2 separate regions of the Homo sapiens genome follow, and region 1 is linked to region 2. Evidence: fine-mapped expression QTL. A gene starts in region 2. The other region holds a variant in brackets. All regions are shown on one strand. Distances are between the middles of the regions. Region 1 overlaps SCML2 (Scm polycomb group protein like 2). Region 2 holds the start of BEND2 (BEN domain containing 2).

Region 1 (2,918 bases), 32 kb after region 2:
AAGACAACCCCAAAGAATGGGATAAAATACATGCAAAGCATATACCTCATATAGGACTTGTATCCAGAATATACGAAGAACTCTTATGACTCAACAATAAAAAGACAATGAAACCAATTAAAAATGGACAAAGGATTCGAACAGACATTTCTCTGAAGATATACAAATGGCCAAAAAGCATAAGAAAAGATGCTCATCATCAACTACTGGAAAAATGCAAATCACACCATAATGAGATACCATTTCGCACCTGCTAGAATGGGTATAATGAAAAAGATGGACAATAACAAGTGTTTAAAAGGAAAAATTGAAACTTTCATTCACTGCTGATGAAAATGTAAAATGGTATAACCTCTTTGGAAAAGTCTGTCAGGTCCTCATCAAGTTAAACAGAGTTAACCATATGACCCAACAATTCCACTCCTAGGTTTGTACCTGAGAGAACACGTATCCACACAAAAACTTATATACAAATGTTCATTGCAGCAGCATTCCTAATAGCCAAAAAGTGGAAACAATCCAGAAGTACATCAATTGATAAATGGATAAACATAATATAGCCATACAATAGAATATTATTCAGCCATAAAAAGGAATGAAGCACTGATACATGCTACCACATGGGTGAACCTTGAAAACATAGGGTGGGCACAGTGGCTCACACCTGTAATCCCAGCATTTTGGGAGGCCAAGATGGGCAGATCACTTGAGGTCAGGAATTCGAGACCAGCCTGGATGACATAGTGAAACCACGTCTCTACTAAAAATACAAAAATTAGCTGTGTATGGTGGTGTGCACCTGTAGTCCCAGCTACTCAGGAGGCTGAGGCAGGAGAATAGCTTGAACCCAGGAGGCAGAGGTTGTGGCGAGCCAAGATCACACCACTGCACTCCAGCCTAGGCAACAGAGCGAGACTCCGTCTCAAAAAAACAAAACAAACAAACAACAAAACACATTATGCTAAGTGAAAGAAGCCACACACAAAGGTTGCATATTATATGATTCTATTAATATGAAATGTCTAGAATAGGAAAATCTATAAAGACAGAAGAAAGTCAATAAATGGTATCCAGTGGTGAGGGGGAAAAGACATTGAGGGATGATAGTTAATAGGTATGGGATTTCTATTGGGGGTGATGAAGACAGTGGTGATGACTGCACAACTCTGTGAATACACTTAAAAAATACTGAATTGTATACTTCTAAAAGGGTGAAATTATGGTATGTGAATTATATCTCAATAAAGTTACTATAAGAAAAGCATCCTCAAAGTATAGCAGTCATAGGAACTAATAAAATCCAATTCCAGAAGGGAAGAACCATTCTAGTCTAAACTGAAGATTTC[G/A]TCATATTTTTTCCCTGTAGGAATCTGCTGATTCTTGGCACTACAGTGAAAATAGAACTTGACACAGGCAGAGGGCCATACCTAGGCAAAAATAAATCAAAAAAGATTTAGCAGCTTCACACAGCTGGAGTGACAAATCAGAAACTCAAACTCAGCTGGTTTTCCCCCATGGGATATTTGCCAAGTTCTGGAGCTATACAGGAAGCTGGGGAGTTAGGCTGAAAACTCTTAAAAGGCACGCTGAAATCTCTCACAGTCTCATGATGCTTAAGAAATAAAGACCCACCAGGGGGTCTTTATTTTATTGTGTGTTTGTGGCAAACACACAAGCCACCTAAACACAGGTGCAAAGTTGTGATAATACATGAGGAAGAAGGCTAAAGAGCTGAGCAGCAAACCCCTGAAGAAGGGAAGTACAATTCCCCAGTCTTTCAAGGCTAAGGAGCTAGGGAATTCCCAGGTTCTCAATCAAAATCCTGGGAAAGTAACACCTGAAGAATAGCGAGGAATCAGGAGATAGACTGAGTCTTACTAAAACTGCTATTCAGTCCCAACCCAGCTCAATCACTGAATGGAATGAGCCCTCCTTCTTTCTGCTTAAAAAAGAGGAAACTTTTTAAGGTAGAAATCTGGAGCTTCTGCAGATCTTTTATATACAATGTCCCATATACAAAAAAATAGTGGTAAACATGCAAAGAAGTAAGACCATATAACCAACTATTGAGAGAAAAACTACTGGTGTCAGTAGACAAAGACTATAACGCAATTTTGATGAATATGTTCAAGAAAACAGGAAAAATGGACAGAAAAGATCAAAGAATAAAAAATTTCACCTAAGAATTATAATCTATTTAAAAAAGCAGAGAGCTGATAGGAAAGTAAACTGAGGCAACCACTTTGAAAAACTGTTTGGCAGTATCTACTAAAGCTTAATCTATGCATTTCCTGTGACCTAGCAATTCCCTCCAAGATAGATACAGGAACAGAAAGACGTGTATAGAATGTTCATGATAACACTATTTATAAGAGTACAAAACATAACACTATTTATAAGGGCACAAAACAGAAAGCACTCAAATGGATACATACCATGGTAGCATATTTATACAACAGAATATTATACAGCAATGAGAATGAATGATCTAACTATATGCAACAATACAGATGAAACTTACAAACATAATGATAGGCCAAAAAAGCTAGGCACAAGAGTAAATGCTGTATAATTCCATTTCTATAAAGTTCAAAAATAGGCAAAAGTAATATATGGTACTAGAAGTCAGGACAGTAGGTATCCTTGTGCGAAGTGAGGGGTAGTAGTGGATTAAAGGGGGTTTGACACATTAGCAGTGCTTCTAGGGTACTAGTAATAGCTACTTTTCCAACCAGTGACTGATTATACAGGCATGAAAATTAATCAAGCTACATTCCATGTATAATTTTCTCTATGTATACTATACTTCAGTAAAATGTCTTCAAAATTACTGCTAAAATATGCAAACACTAGATTTGTCAGAATCAAAGTCTCCTAAGAAGAGCACTCTATCTTAAACTATTTTTGAGTCACTTATT
Region 2 (2,918 bases):
ACTGAGGCGGGAGCATTGCCTGAGCCCAGGAGTTCGAGACCAGTGTGGGCAACATGACGAAATCCCGTCTCAACAAAAAATACAAAAATTAGCCGGGCGTGGTGGTGCACGCCTGTAGTCTCCGCTCCTCAGGAGGCTGAGGTGAGAGGACCGCTTGAATCCAGGAAGCGGAGGCTGCAGTGAGCCGACATGGCGCCCCTGCACTCCCACCTGGGCACCAGAGCAAGACTCTGTCTGAAAACAAAACAAAACAAAACAAAACCAAGCAAAAACAAAAACAAAAAACAACAACAAAAAACCTCTGTGAAAGTCTGAGTCATTCCTCATTCCTCGCCCCCCCATACCCCGCCTCACCAAAAAGAGAACAGCTGAAAAAGGATAAGCTCGTCCCAGAAAGTCAGCATCAAGTATCTAATAAGCTTCGAAATCTCAAAATGTAACCCACGCGGGCACCCCGGGAGAGGCGGCGGGTACCACCCAAAGCACCCCCTCAGAACACCCGGAATTTGAGGCTGTGCCCCAGCCGCTATGCCAAAACGCTGAACAGGGCTGTGTTCCGCGGCTGCCCACCAGGGAAAACCAATAAATTCAAGAAAAAGTGCGGCCGCATAGATCTGTATCGCCGGAGCCCGGCGTCGCGAGCGCCGAGATTGTTTCCCAGCCACTCGAGGCTCCGGAAAGAACCGCGGGCCAGAGGGCAACCAGGCCCAGCCTCTTGACGCACTCTCGGCACAAGCCCAAGTCACCCCAACCCTGAGCCACCAAGAGCCACGGAGACGCCATGAGCCTCAGGATCACCTCACGTCTCCGGGACATCTTGAGCCCCTGAGACGACCTGAACCCTGGGCCATCTCGGTCCACCACGCCAAATTTCCCACCGGCGCGCTGAGCAATCGGCGGCAGATGGCCAATACCCAGAGGCCGCCCCCCGACACGCCCCGGTCAATGACTAGCCAATCCTGCCGCCCCTGAATGGCCACCTAAGTGGGTGCCATCCAGACTCTTGACAGAACTTGAGGCCCAAGCTAGCGGGCCAGTTGAGGCGAGGTCACTTTACCCTGTTCCTGGGTCCTCTCTGACATCGTGAGATGGCGGGGTCTGGCTCTGAGGCCCGAGACCTGAGGCCCGAGACCTGAGGCCTACGTCTGCGCCGCGGCTCTGAGGTAACTGCTTGGTAACTGTGTGGTAACTGCGTACACTCGTTGTCCGAGGCACAATGAGGCCCGGGCAGGAGCCTGGACCACGTCTCCGCGGCTGCGCAGTAGCGCTTGGCATGCGTGCGTGACTCCTGGGGGTCAAAGGGCCTCGCCCTCTCCCCCACTTTTGACCTACTTTCTTAAAGAGTCCCTTTTACAAAAATATACATATGTATGTATATATATATTTGTACTATATATGTGTGTGTGAATATATGTAGATATAGATACAGAAGTAGAGATAGAGATAGAGATAATGAACTGGAAGCCAACAGTGTAATTCTGCTCGTCCCAAAACGCACATCATAAAAAAAAAGTCCAATGTAAGAGACTTTCTAAATCTTCCTGCGGGACTCTCAAAGGCAGCCCTTCCTTTGCCGCACTCGGGGAGAGCCGGGAGGGAGGCGATCCGCCACCAGCCAAATCAGGGCCTTTCCTCTTAACGACCACGCGGCAAGGGGGCCGGGCCCTCGCACACCTCGATGGCCTCCCCCACTCCAAAGGGACTCCGATTTCGCAGGATCTCCCAACTTCCGCCTCTGTTCCCAACACCCTACGTGTTTCTCTTCCTCCTCGTTCAGACCCTCTAGTGTTTTCCAGGTTGCTTCCTCATATCCGATACCGGCTTTGGGAACAAATCCGAAAACAAGCCAACTTTGAAAATGTGCCCCTAATAAATACCTAGCAACCCCTCCCCTCCTTCCTGCCCCCTCTAGTAGTCTGCAGTGTATTGTTTCCATCTTTGTGTCCCTGTGTACCGGATCTTTAAGCTCCTGCTTACAAGTGAGAAGATTCGGTATGTGGTTTTCTGTTTCTGTGTTAATTCACTTATGAGAAAGGCCTCCAGCTGTGTACATGCTGCTGCAAAGGACATGGTTTTGTTCTTTGTTATGGCTGCATAGTATTCCATGGTGTATATGTACCACATTTTCTTTATTCAGTCCACCATTGATGGGCACCTAGATTGATTCCATGTCTTTACTATTGTCTTCACATCTTTCAAAACCTCTCTCGGTACTACATCTGTTCGAATAATACCTCCATCAAGACACTTTCCTATAGCCCCCTGGTAAGAAGGATCCCACAGCAGGTAATCTTCACGTCCCTATTAGTATTTAAATTACTTTGCCTGACATTATAAATCCTCGTCAACATGCCTCTCTCCTAAGTTCCTGGAGGACAGCACCATGTCTTATTTATATTTGAACACCACCTCCCTCACAAGATTCTAAGAATTAAATGTTATAAAATAGAAAGCACCCAGTGCCTGGAATTTGGGATCCATTTCTTCACTGTGTCAGTTACACAATGACTCTTGTGACTGTGTGTCTCCTCATTTGGGGGAAGGGTAAGAATTTCTTTACTTGTGAGAAGCAAAGGTGTATATTGTTAGGTAGAAACACAGACTTGTTTTGCTATCGTTCCAGAGTGTACATATGTGTAGGAGGATGCATAGAGAAACTGAGGGCTGAAATGGATACACTGTGCTGGTTACCAATGTGTTACCTCTCACCTCCAACTTCACCCACTTTTGCCGACTCTGTGAAAATGGATGTGGGCCCTTTAAATATTTTTCCCTTTGCCAGTGACACAATTTAAGCCTTTGGCAGTAGAAGGTGCTAAAAGGAGAATGTAGGAGGAAAGAGTTTTTTTGCCTCCTGGTTGACCTGTGCTCTCTGAGGACATTGATGCAAAGTGTAGCTTTCTCCTGCAGGAGAGGGC

Evidence for each region.
Region 1: its variant is fine-mapped to the expression of BEND2 in whole blood (TOPMed, PIP above 0.99).

What each region holds. Positions count from the first base shown.
Region 1 is chrX:18,251,350-18,254,267 of GRCh38, forward strand. All of the region lies in intron 11 of SCML2 (Scm polycomb group protein like 2), which reads right to left. Among named protein-coding and RNA genes, the nearest start is that of BEND2, 32 kb to the left of the region's middle. The variant G/A (reference allele first, on the strand shown) is at 1,347.
Region 2 is chrX:18,219,669-18,222,586 of GRCh38, forward strand. BEND2 (BEN domain containing 2) reads right to left here and starts at 1,218. Exons shown (of 14, transcript NM_153346.5): 1 at 1,058-1,218. The coding sequence starts at 1,082.